Homo sapiens: one gene and its partner. The protein of the gene in region 2 interacts with the protein of the main gene of each other region in a pairwise test. Each region holds a gene or a part of one and is shown on either strand. Other genes may lie near its edges.

Region 1 (7,000 bases), about 53 Mb from region 2:
ATCACATGAAGAGAGAGAGAAAATGTTAGTACAGAAGTAAAAGAATAAACTTTAGTTATAGATGGGACTAAAGAAAGAGAAAATAGGAGACAGCACAGAACCACTTATGAAACACAACTGACCTGAGTTCTGTTAAAAGCCACACGTGCAAATACCGCCTGGGAGATTCCTGCTCGTTTCAGTTCATCGCGTACCCACTGGTAGATTTCGGAAGACACCTCTGTGTTGGTCGAAACCTGTTGCTCCAAAGGCTTATTCATAGATCTACTGACAGGGGGAGGGTGGTTCAAGTATTGTTGGTTTAAGGACTGCTGGGCTAAAAGTCTATTCACTGCATACTGCTGGTTCAGCAGCTGAGCCATCACCAGCTGCTGGTTGACCAATTGAGGACTGATAGGTGTTGATACGAGCCCAGGGTGCAGGTTTGGAAGAGGTGTCCGGACAGAGGGCTGGCTGCCATGGGAGAGCTGCGCAGGGGATGGAGGCTGCTCGGCTGTGTTCCCTGGAACTGGTTGCTGGCCAAAATTGACATGATTGGCGCCTTGCTGGGATAGCTCAGAAAGACTATCCATTTCAACTAAAGTGGACAAAGAGTAAAATCACATTCAGCCAACAATGATTGGCATTGATAAAGATTTCTAACCATTTCCTAAATTAAAAAAGGGTAGGCACAGGGCACACCCCAAATCCAATAAAACCAAGAAAATTTCAAGTTGCAACTTACCAGGCTGTGTTTTTGCTCTCCTTTCCTGAACAATTCTACAAACTTTGGAAATGGGACAGCATTCCTAATCTTATTTTTAAAAAGTGGTTTAGATTTAAGGCATAAAATCAATTATTACCCAAACTCTTTCCAACTAGTTGTTCACTCTCACTTATTACCCCAAGAAGGCTTCTAAGCAACAATTTTTAAAAATGGCTTCTAAAAGAATGTCATTTGCTTAATGACAACTACAAACAGTGAGCTGAGCTGAGAAAATAAGCTTATAATAAGCAACTAAAAAAATTTACAAATATATTCTCATGATATTCATTAACTTTAGTACTCTAGGAAAAAGGTGTAAAAGAAAAAATATGACATAAAAAGTCACCTACTTTCAATTTTTACCCAGCAGTGAATAGAAGTAGTTAATGTAATAAATAAAAATGGGCATAATAATAAGTGTATATTGAACACTTGCTGAATATCTTATATGCCTTGCTTCATTTTAATTCTAACCATCATGGGCAGTAGGTATATCTGGAAATACTTTTTAGAATAAAGCAAGTGATTTATTGTATATCAAGCCAGCATACCCAGTGTTGCTAAGATCCAAATGTTTTTTCTTCAGGAAGCTATGGCCATCACCAGATGCTAAAGACAATCTTGCAGGGAATCGTTCTGGTACAATGGTGAGGCTGTCATGATTTTGCAATTTATTCCCACCTACCCAGGATGAATGCTTCTTCCTTGGCTAGGTTCCTCATATGGATTGGCTGAGCATCATCTCTAAGTATGTAAATGCTTTTCTGTACGAAGAGGAGACTGGTTCGATGCTCTTGGCTGGAAGGGCTGAGCATGAAGCTGTACATAAACAGGACTTTCCAAATTGTACACAGACTTCCCACATGTAGACTCTAGTTTGATTTTAATCATCAATTCTCTTTTCATTAAATATGCAGGTTTTACATTTAGAGGAACTTTATCATAGCGCTATAGCTCCTGATATACGCAAAATATAACTAAGAATTGGGGAAGAAATCTTCAATTTCTACCAGTGATATCAGCCCAAGTGGGCCATTCACAGAGAACAGTAATTCAAGCAATTATTCCAAAAATGATGCATTGTCTTCATTACAGCCTTAAGCTATAAAAGGCAAAGAATCCATTTTGGTAGATGGATGGTTTTTCTTCAAATATTAAGAGCTAAAACTTGCTCAAAATTTGGATTAATTTTTCTTAAAAAATTAAAAAAAAATTAAATGAATGTAAAGAAATAAATAGAAATAGATTTAAAACAGGACATAATGCCCATTCCTATATTATTTTAAAATATATGTTTTGGAGGGTAAAAGTAGGTGAAAGAGAACAGTAATAAAAATTAAAACATTAACCTTAATCACAGTGTTTGCTTTTGTGAACATTAACAAACTCAACAGAGAGAAAATGCCATCATCTAAATGCTTAGGTACCATACACAACTTTTATCTATCATTTTACACTGCAGATAATTTTAGTGTACTTCTTGCATAACAAATATTCACCTAAAGTTATGTGTTAAGATAGAATGCTACCTTGGAATTAAAAGTTCAGAAATGATGCAATAATTGTTCTGGTATGGATGGTAAAGCAATGTGCTTATCAAAGTGCCCATCCATGGCGGCTGGGGGTTAGAGCTATAAAAATCACTTGATCTCTACTGTGGAAACTATAAATAGTTTAATTTAAGAAGTTTAATTTCCTTTAAAATTGGGTGTAAAAATAGGCACTTTCTCATTCAACCAGACAAAAACAAAAAACCTAAAAGCAAGACTTATCAGAGAAAGAAATCACAGCTAATATTAGTTATTCAAGGCCTGGTTAGGTCTTCACTGAGTTGTTAAAAAATGACAGCTCCCCTCCCAACGCCTCAATTTCCTGCATGTCTGACAACCAAGTCAGTTTGGCTGATTTAAACACAAACATTTATTGAATTTAATTATCTCATTATACTCATACCCACTTCCCACCCCCAAAGAAACATTCTAAATTGATCTCTAATTGGGCAATCAAAAGACCTGGCTTTAGATGTGACTTTGATAAACCCCCAAATGACACGTAATGGTATGTAGCCACTGCTGCAATGTTTTTTTTGCTTACCCATCATATCTTTTGTCTTCTTGAAATGTTTGTACCACCTTCCAAATTCTTGACATTTTGCTGCTGAGACATTTGCATAGTAAGTACTGTTCACAATGGAAGAAATCATACTCTGCATGAAGAAGGGGGGAGAATATTTGTAATACACAGCAGCACAAGATGGAACACAGAAATGATCTCAATTGTGGCAACTGTATTTTTTTAATCAACTGAGTACCAATACATTTTGGTTTCACACTTTAGCCTAAAGCTTCGACTTCTTAATATTCATTAAGTAGATCATCAAATGCTTATTTAAGTAGAAAGCAACAGCCCACTGAGACCAGTATAAAGCTATCAAACCCACAGACTTTGCTCTAGCATTCATTGAATCTCCATCAATGCCATCTATTACTAGGCTGTCAAACTCACTGGTCCCAATAAATCCAAATACATGAAGATGACTTTATAATTGTGACTCATAAATATACGAGACTTCGCGATTTTTTGACTGGACTCTACATCTTTTCTACTCAAAGTATAGACCAGGGACCAGCAATATGGGCATCACTTGGAAGCTTGTTAGAAATGCAGAATCTTGGGCCCTACCCCAGACCAGTGCACTTAGCAGCTGAATTTTACCAAGATCCCAGGGGATTCACATGTATATTAAAATTTGAGAAACAGAACTTGCACTTTCCACTCTATTATTTGGATTTAAAGTGGACGCGCATTAACACTGATCAAAGGTTAACTGACCGTATTTGAGAAGAAACAAACTATTCACAGAGATCCTCTATCAAGAGAAAAACATTCTGCAATCTTATTACTGGCTTCATCAATAGTAAAGCTTAAGTTTTGAATTTCAAACCGATCATAAAAATTTTAAATTTATACATTTCATGCTTCTAAATTTCTCAAGGATACCACAAAAAGATGACCTATCGTGACTTATCTTTATCCTGCTTTTAATAAATGCCCGGAAAACTGTCAGCCCTTTAACATACAAAAATGAAGAAAAACATGATTTTAATGAATCACTAGGAGGGTTTCTTTTTTTAAATCATTTTCAATCTTCCCAGCAAATTTTGGTTACGGTAATTTCAATGACTAAATTCATGGTCCATATTAACCTGTTACCCATATTCTCTAGTAACAGCTAACTTAATTTCCTACCGAGTCTTAGGAGTAAGATTTTGTAGCACCAATCTATCCCTCACCCCTATGTGCAGAAACATGAGAACTCACATTTCAGACATCAGTTGGTCTATGGTGAAATAATTTATAGAAGGCAGCATTGTTCAGGAGGCAGTGAACAACCAGAAAAGCCAGTTTGGGGACAAAAGTATTTTTATATAATTATCTTCTTTAAGTTACCTCTAATGTAAAGCTCTTTCAGTTATTATTCATTCTCCTGACATCCACTATCAGTGTTAATTCTGTAGCATGCACACATTTCTGGAATATGTAAATTTGGGGGATCTCTAAAGAACTTCCAGTGAAGGATAAGCTGGAGTCGCATTATTTATGTAAAACACAGCTATCTTTCCTAAGAGGCACTGTGATATCTTTTTTTTTGACACTCTCTATAGTCATTTTCACATTTTATATCTCTAAAAAGACATTCTTAATGTGTTCATGATGCTCTGCCATTAATCCAATAGCTTGCAATTTCACTAAGAGCCTCCCACAGTCCACAGTGTAAAAAGACACTTAGCAAAGTTGCCAAAACCAGAGCCAGAAGATTACCTGATCTGTCAGCTTCAATCTCACTTACTCTCTTGTAATAAGGGATCAATAAAGTCAGACACTAATAAAAACTATTGAGATCGCTGATGGATAATGGTGATTCTTCTGCAAATGGATGACAGTTGATGTTCTTCCACTCTGGTCCAATTTTTAAAAAAATTATTACTCTTTATCTAGACATTCTGGCAGTTCCTTAAATGTTAATAATACACATGAGTTCTAGATGTGGTTTATGTCTTACTTTTTAGAAGTGTATGGAATATCCAAATTTTGCCGAGGTTTTTGACAAACATCCAGTCTACTCCAGTTTGCCAACAGTTCTATATATGAAATTTGCTCTTTGCTGCACACCTACTATATGCCTGGCTGGTAGTAAGGATGCAAAGATGGCAGACAGCCTCTGCCTACAAAGATGAGGCACCTGTCATCCAAAGATGGCGGACAGCCTCTGCCTACAAGAAGTTTACTATCTATTAAGAACACAGATATGTAAATAGATCATCTCAATTTAATGTGATTTGGTATATCAACAGTGGAAAATGTATAGGGGACGACGGAAGGAAGAATCATCCATGGTGTGTGTGAAAAAATGTCTGAAATAGTTTTATAAAACTAGAACCTATATGTAATAGTGCTATACAGTTTATTATTATTCGTACATGGAAAATAATATCCATATGTGCATCATTGTCAAAGCTTCCCCCTACCCTACTTAACCCTAAATTGGTAGGTTCTGGGCTTAAGTGCTTTTCTGTCACATGGTGTATGCTTAGGAAACTCTGATTAATGTAAATAATAGCCTAAGCAAGACTTAAATCAAAAGGCTAATCCGTAACTTATAATGCATGACAAAGCAACTTTTTGGATTCCCTATCTTTTTGTGCTTTTGGGTGACTGGGAAATATTTCCTAATTCAGGTAACTTGGAGTCATGTCTATTTTTATTGGACAATATGCAATAATCTGTCCAATTAGATTGCTCCTATAGCCACTTCATGAGGTGTATGTGTGTGGGCGTGGGCGTGTGTGTGTGTTTCAGGTGGTAAAATTCCTACTAAAGGCTTAGGCATAGCATTGGAGTAGACCAGCCAGCCGGTTTCAATGGCAGGAAAGAGACTGCAGAATTTTGTGGTGCACATGGCATTTGAAAAATCATATACAGTAGTGTAATCTTAAATTTAGAATATCAGGAAAAAAACACGTAATGTTTTGATAACACAAATAAAAAAGTCATGATTGGTAAAATTTTCCTAGGTGGTGGGATGTACAGATAGTAGGCCAAGTTCCATGTTAGAAAGGCTTGGGATTCTTGTGTCACTTAAAAGGAGGTACTGGTTTAAAAAGATTGCACTAAGCTGTGAGTTCACGTAGGTCTGGGGCACCATATTATTTTCTAGCTCAATGCCTGGCATGCATTAATATAAACACTAAATGTTCATCTGACAAAACAGAATAGAAATAAACATATATTCAAGTGAGGATGTGTCACACACTGGTAGTATGACCTTGGGTCAAATAGTTGACCATTCCATCACAATTTCCTATGCTAAATGGGAATGATAATAGCATACACCTCATGGAGTTGTTCTGAGAATCCATCAATTCAGGCATTTTTAAAATTCATTTAGCATATACTTAAATTCTACTATGTGCCAAGCACTGGGCAAGTCACTAGGAAAATAATGACTTGAAGAGACATATTATCTGCCCTTGGACAGGAAATAATAGATGTGATACAATTAGCACAGAGCCTGTAACATATTACATATAGACTGAAGAGATATTAATTACTATGACAATCCTTTGCCTCCTCCTCATCACTGGGCTTTCATTATATGATCACATTTCATATCAGGTGACTATGTTTTGAGTATCAGATAAAATTTTCAAATGATATACAGTATTTTGAGTCTTTTTAATGTAGAATGAAGTATACTGATTAAATTATTAAGTTACAAGTTGGTACAAGGAATAGTAAAGGAAAACACCACGGGGAAATATTTCTTTCCTTCTCATACTCCAATTTGGTGGTGTTTTCTGAAGCTGGCCTATATCTGGTAGAAAGCATCAAGAAGGCACACCACTCCTCTGGCTTGGATGCACGGCCCATGCCCTCTCCCATCTCTAGCTAACAGCTGCTCATCCTTCAGGATACAGCCTGGGCATCCTTGCTTCCATGAGGCCTTTCCTAACTTCCCAAACCTCCTGCAGCAGAGCACTCATCCTGCTGTTTATTTTGCACTGGACTGTGGGCCTTAGGTCTCATCTGAATATATCCTGGACTCATCAGAGGGCTGGACACAGACTAGGTGATCAATAAAAAGGGTCACTGAAACAAGCCACCAGAAATCCTCTTCCCCTTTTTTCCCCTTAAAGGTCAAACATAATAGCAGCTTAACTATGACACGAATCTTTCAAATCCATCGCTTTGGCT
Region 2 (7,167 bases):
TACTGAAAATATATTGAAGAATCGCTGCAAAATTTTTCCATTCCATCCCCTTTCCCCCACCCCCGTTTTCCACAGCAAGAATCAATTTGGAGGGAGATGTGTAAACTAGAATTTTTAAAGAAATAGTAAGACTTCAGGTGTTTTCTACCCAGGGATAGCCTACATAATTGAGAAAGAGGAGTTCCTGCTATTTTTCTGTTCCAGAGAGAAATGTATCAAATCTTTTTTAGAATTCCACTGGAGTTTTGATTCTCAAAGTGGAAATACCCATCCCTTTGGGTCCAGGAAAAGAAAACTCAGCTCACAGTTTCAGAAATTTGGACTGTTTTTTTCCCCCCTCTGTCTTTCTATTTGAAACGTCTCACAATTAAAGAGCAAGAAAAATATAAAAAAGGAACTCAACTAGTTACCATTCAAAAGGTGTCAGCTAAAATCTCACTGCAAAGGGAAAAAAAAAGGTTTAACATCTTGCCACTGGCTGCATCCCCCACCCCCCTTAGACTTTGGATTAGTCATTGTATGAGAGAGAGGGAGAAAAAAAAAATCACTTTTTTTTTTTTTTTGGAAAAGTAAAGTAAACAGCCTCCAACTGCTGAACCTTGACAACCCAAATTAAGGAAGCAGGAGAGATCAAACAGAACTGCTGCTGGGTGGTTGTCAGGAGCTGCTACACGGAGAACCCTGGACTATTCGATCAAGCAGCAAGGCTATATGTTCACTTATGCAGAAATGGACCATTGCAGATGCTAATCTTTGTTGTGCAAGCGAAGGCTCACTTGGAAGGAAATACTCAGCCCCTCTCTGGGCAGCATTTGAGTTCCTTATGGATGCCGAGTCGCGAAACAAGTTATTTTTTTTAATGTATCCTTCTTTATGAGGAGAATGCTACCCAAAAATGTATTAAAGGAATATTAAGTCGTCCAGAGACTGTCTTGCTACCAAGAACTGTGCAATGGAATTCTTTTTACCAACATTAGACTCCTACACTAGAGTTAGATAACGTTTTCTCACATTGAGTTTAGAAGATCTGCCTTGTCAGGGAAGCCAAGGTTTTGTATGTGAGAGTTTAAATCTGATGTGAAGCTCAAAAAAAAAAAAAAAAAGAAAAAAGAAAAAAAAGAAAAAAAAAATCTCTGGTGATGAAGTTTTGTGTCAGCCCACTCTTGGAATTTAAAAAGGCGAGAGAGAGCAGTCTCCAGATTAGACAACCTCTTTTTTTAGATTGACATTCAACATGACCACGTTGCTACTTTTATTCAAGTTCTCTGTAACTTGTCCTTGCTTGTTGTCTAGGAAAATTTAACTACTTTACATTTTTAAAGGGAGTAGTAACAGTAATTACTGTAGCATTTTGTTTTCACAGGTTTATCAAAGTATAATGAAAGAAACATCAACTATTCAAATTAACTGTCTCAGATAAGGGGTTTATATTGCTGGAGATGTCTAAGATTTTGTGTTTATATTTAAATCGTGGAGTATAAACTGTGTAACACTTTTTTTTTTCTGGGATAAACTATCCCCAAATTAAATGTTATTTTAAATTAAGTAGAACAAAGTAGGAAACAGGATAAGTAAACACATACAGAAGAATAAAAATAATTGTCATTTAAGGATTATATTTTTAATTAACAAGTGTCGGTCACATAGTAAGCAGTTTATATATTTTTTGTAAGCCAGAGTTTCATAACCATGGTGCACAACATGTTTCAAAGTCTGTAGTTTTTACTAGATATACCTTTATTGTATAATTAAGCAATGTGGGTTAAACATACACATGGATGCTATTAGGCAATTTTCTGCAATATGTAATGTTTTGAAAACGCTATAAATATTTTCTAGTTAAACCATTTATACTTATAATAGCAAAAGTTAACTGAGTTAATATTGAGCCTAGGCATGGTTTTCTGTTACTGAGTTTTTCTTTGCCTTTTTAAAGACTATACCCCTGGCCTTGTAAATTTGCATCTTAGGCTCTGTTGAAGGGTATGTCTGTTTTCAGCAGTTGTTTAAATTAACAGAAGAATTGTGATATTTTTCAAATATATTTATATTGCAGGGGGTCCAGTGCCAAAATTAAGAAAGAGAAGGAATATAGCAGATGTGACAACTTCTTTTGAACCCAGCTTCCTCTTTGCAGCCAATCTTATTGTGCATATTTATTTGATTTTCATGTTTTACTTATGACTCAAACTCAGTTTTGAAACACTATCTTGTAAGATTCCACATCTCAAAAAGTATGTATATTTAGACAAGGTTAGGTGTTACAGTACCTATCACATTTCAGTGGGAATGCCAAGAATATTTACAGGGTATAGCAAGAATTTTGTCCTTTAAAAATAATTTTAGGTATACGTTAATAAAACCGAAGTAGATTGCAGGCTGTCAGAACATAGTATAAATTTTGTTTATGATTCTGTTACTTTAAGGTACTTACATTAAAGAAACTCATTTAACCCGTGACTGAAGAGCATTAAGTGGGGAGGGAAACCCTCTGAAGAGCTCCTACTGCCCTTTGCTCTCCCGATAATCTTAAATTACTACAATTTAATTGCAACTTCAAGGCATTCAGCATGAGCTGTTTCTTCTCCACGACCGAGAAAGGGTTTCCAGAGCATGGCTAGATTTACACAGGTGGTATTTTTGTTTTTAATTTTTTTTTTCTTTTTGCTAAGGGCTTTTCCTTTCTTCCTTATCCTGTCAGATGTCACACTTCTTTTATAGATTTCAGTCATAGTAAATGCCATTTTTGCTATACCAGCAATATTGGCCTTCTTTTTTTCTTTTTAAATGTGTTTTTTTGAATCTAGAGTATATAAACCTCTCAAGCAGGTAGGGGTTTGTTTTCTAAAGAAAATAACCTCAAGAAAGGCATCTGCTGAATAGACAGGTGAACTTTATACCTGAGCCAATGTATACTTTTACTATTTGCAGGGGATTTTTTTTTTTTAAGTTGATGGTAGTTAGTCCCACCAGGTGATCAAACATTGAGTTTGTGAGACAAGCCAGCAAGCCAAGTAGGTTTGCACTTGGGCCCATGCATTTTTTTAATGATCTTTCTTGTCATTTGTTACTCTACTCTGCAGGCCACTTTGCTATACATATGCTATCCAAGGAACCATCTTAAACTGATTTTTCAACATATTTCTCTTCTCCGGTACTTGGATGAATTAAGGATAAAGGCTCCAAAAGCTGGAATGCCAGCAGGCCTTGAGATGAGGCAAGTTCCTGAAACGGGCAAACCTGGCGAAATTTGGGGTATCTTCTGCATGATAGTTTTTTTCCTTTTTTTTTTTTCCTGGGACGTTTGTAGTTTATTTCAATGAGCATGTGACCATGTGCTTAATGGAAATTAAGCAGATTTGGCTTGTGTCGCTAACCTAAAAATAAATGTTGTAAGGAATATTTGATTTCTAGAAGTGTTTTGGTTTTGCATCCCATAGATAATGTTCTTACAGTTAGGGCTACGAGGCTGGTATTCTGCAAAGAGGAAGTACAATGGGGGAAAGTGCATGGCAGTCAGGAAAGACAATTAGACAGTGTTCTTTGTTTCTTTAATAAATTATTCTTATTAATTACAGTCAGTTTGTGCTAAGGCATTTTTCAATCCTTGTTTAGAAGTCAGCTGCCATTCACAAGAAGGTTGTGCCAGAAGCTGTGTTCTTCGCACGCACTGTTGTTTTACCCAGTCGTGAAATCTATTGACCAGATTGGCTTGTGGATGTCTCTGCAAGGCTTGTTTTTCTTTTTGCAATGCCCTGATGCCAGTCTTTAATACATGCCCTGCCTTGTACACAACAGGTGTTTGTTCGGTAGTTATTTTATGGGACTTAGAGTGAGAAAAAAATGTTTCCTATCTAGCCAGCCGCTGTGAGAACGAGTGCCTGAAAGGGAGAACCTACCTAGTACCTGAACAGGTGTAAATGGGTGTTTCCTCATGACCCTCCCCAAGCTGTTTTATTTCAAAAGGAGGGGAGGGGGGCTCAGTTTAGTGCCATGAAATTTACAATTCAGTTGTAATAATTTAAGGTTATTGGTAGAGTGCAAAGGGCAGTGGGAGCTTTCTAGTGGTTTGGCCTTGATGCTTAAAGCTGCTCAGTTGTAGGGTTAAATTAGTTCCTTCAGTCTGAGTACTTAAAGTAACTAAATCGTAAACAAAATTTATATTCGATTCTGACAACTAATAATCTATTTAAATTATATTAAAGTATCTGGGCAAAAATTTAATTAAAGACAGAAGTACTGTCAAGCCCTGTAAATATCTTGACAGGTCTACTCAAATGGAACTGATATCACGAAATATTTACATATGTCTGCTGTGTTCGGGAACATCTCAGCAGTGCCTGTGCAAAGCTAATTGCACTTTCCTTCCAAATTGTATTTTTAATAAAATAGTTTTTTTTTTAAAAAGGAATATGAATACATACACAGTTGTGTTCCAGTGTTCTGTTTACTATTTACTTCTCTATACTCAGAATCATGTTGTGATGAGTGTATTTCCTCAAACTGCTGCTAATTCAGATAAATAGCTGAAATGGGATCATTGAATAGAAAGCCCATGTCATTCTGTTTGATTTCAACAGTTTGAAGATATCAGAGGCTAGCATGTTATAGGACAATTTACTGAGGGAAAAATGGATCTGAATGTGGGATTATTGGGCCTTGTTTATGTTCAATAGAATAGATTTGCTTAGGACAAACATTTTCTCTGAGTTTTATGTTTGGACATATATTTATTTATTACTTGTAAGTCAGGTGGACATCCACATTTTACCAGATGCTCTGATTTTAGCTAATTTTGTGATTCACTTTGTTTACTAGGACACTGAAGAATATTTCTAGCATCAAACTGAATTTCCGAGGTGTCCTTTCTCCCTCCCAGCTGTGCAATTGAGTCATAATGTGACTTTCTCTGCTCCAGGTTCCCTGCTTTTGAATTAGGGGTAATATTTTAACATATGTTCTTTGAGCTTAGGGATCCAATGATACAGGGCTTTGTTATTACTCACATTTTTAAAAGATATTCTTGGTGCTCTCAGGACAGTGACCGCAGCTTTTGTTGGGGGAGGGTGTGATGTGAGTTTTGCTTGAGTTTCTTTTGCCCTGGTGCCTACCTCCTGATGACCAGTGGCACTGGTGGCTTCCCCTCCTGGGGGTGAGCACAGAGATGGAAGTGAATGCTCATGTCTGAAGTGAAGGGAGGTTGCAGTTGGTCCTAATTCAGCCTGGTTCAAAGTGAGGTCCTCGCTCACCTACCTCTGTATCTGTGTGTGTGTGTGTGTATGTGTGTGTGTGTAGGTTATTAAAATACAGATCCTTGAGTCAGAATTTTTGCTGATTGACATGGTAACGTACATTTATAACAAACTTCCCTTGATAATTCTGATGCATGCTAGAGACCTGTGAATCAAGTGATTTATTCTTTCAGATGTGTGGAACTGAAATCTCTATCTTCACTTGGATTTTACTGATGATTTCTTTGATTTTACCTTGAGGCCCATCCTGTGTTGTTTTTAATGTATTTGGATTTTTATTACGAATGAAAAACGGTGGTTTTTAACCAAGCACGAGTATTGGAATCACAGCAGAGCTGTTGTTCCCAACACAGACACAGTTGCACGACTCCTGGATGTGCCGTATCTGGGGTGGGGCCAGCATCTGTGTTTTTAAATCGCATCCCACATGGTCCTGATGCCCACCAAAGTGGGAAAACTGGACCTGTCAATTATCAGAGTTGGAGGAAAGCCTGCAACCCTTCTTAAGAGTTTAATTGAATTGGTTGGCCATTGTGAAACCTAAGAGAAGAAAACGGAGCTCCTTTTTCAGGAGGGCACAAAAAGAAACCTTGGAGACTTAGAGAAACAGAGGCAGAACAAGAGCCTCACAGTTCAATAACGTGATAGGAACAACCTGGAACATCGGTGGTTTTCACCAAATGTCAATATCAGATAATTTCCTTTTGAATTTTGTCTTGCCTGCATCCATGTTTCCCAATGGGTGTTGTCATGCTGTAGCTACCAATTAGTGTCAGATGACTCTCTAGAATTTTTTTTTCTGAGTATTCCATCTTAATTTTAAAATTGTAACTGTTTGCTCTTTGGATTAACCCTGCTGGCAGAAGTATTTTGATTTTCCCAAGCATCTTGGGAAATTCTCTATCGTATGTGATGGGGCATGCACGAATATTGATGGAAATAGCCTAGCCAACGATGCCACACAAATAAAGAAACCAGAATCCTAAGAAGAAGGCATCCTACAAGATTATGAAATAAAGGAAGATAAAATGTTAAGGAGGCTTATTTAAATATTCAGGGCTTCAACTAAAGATCTAACCACTAAGATCAAAAGAGTTATTTAAATAAAAGTTGTTGAGACATTTTTTCATCTGTATTAATAATGTGGCTTTTGAAGTTACCCGGTAATAATGTGTCCATAATGCCCACACCTAATTTTTAATTTCCATTTTGGCTTTAGGTGTGGCTTTATTTTAATAGCTGCCAAAAAGTTGGCAATTGTTTTTACGTTTAGAACTTCACAGTTTGCTTTTCTGTAGGTTTAGGTAGCATTGGGGATATTCGTCTAATAAAAACTTTTAAAATTTCTGTTCTGACCCTGAGGCACTTAAAAAAAACTCTTATGGGCCAAATTTTAAAAGTAGAGTGTCTCTACTACTGCATAAAGAATTTCTATAAAAGATGAAACATGGAGCTGATTGAAAGAATAGACGGCGCAATGGTAGAGGACACATAGTTACCACTGTCACTGGTAATCTACAGCTTGATGCGAAGTCATTCCGCCTTGTTTGTTGAAATGTTAATCATTTCATTAAGAAAGGTTAAGTAATTAACTGATATTTCATTAGGGAATCAATGACAGACCTTTTTTTAGTGATGTATGGTAGATATTTTCTAATAGAAAGTTTGCCCCATTTAATTATTTGGAAAGAAGCTAGTTGATTGAGCCTTGGGAAGGAGGGGTGGGGCATCTTCAGATAACATCTATGTCCATAAGCAACTTTAAATAATTTTGGAGAAAATGGTCTATTAGAATAGAAAATCGTTCAGTCCCCAGTTTTCTTTTATGGGCTCCATCAGGCATGTTGTTGCAGACCTGCTGTTGTTTTGCATGCCTTCTCTGGGTTTAAGAAGGGTTCAGCTGCTTAAATGTGTT

Evidence for each region. Proteins that work in one complex are often made in the same cells at the same time.
Region 1: the proteins of FOXP1 (region 2) and SATB1 come close enough for resonance energy transfer, tested with the Homo sapiens proteins (one study listed by BioGRID).

Annotation. Positions count from the first base shown.
Region 1 is NC_000003.12:18,394,340-18,401,339, forward strand, and holds part of SATB1 (DNA-binding protein SATB1), read right to left. Parts: intron 2,952-7,000; coding exon 2,840-2,951; intron 578-2,839; coding exon 123-577; intron 1-122. UniProt on the Homo sapiens protein: Crucial silencing factor contributing to the initiation of X inactivation mediated by Xist RNA that occurs during embryogenesis and in lymphoma.
Region 2 is NC_000003.12:71,573,569-71,580,735, reverse strand, and holds part of FOXP1 (forkhead box protein P1), read left to right. Parts: intron 1-7,167. UniProt on the Homo sapiens protein: Transcriptional repressor. Can act with CTBP1 to synergistically repress transcription but CTPBP1 is not essential. Plays an important role in the specification and differentiation of lung epithelium.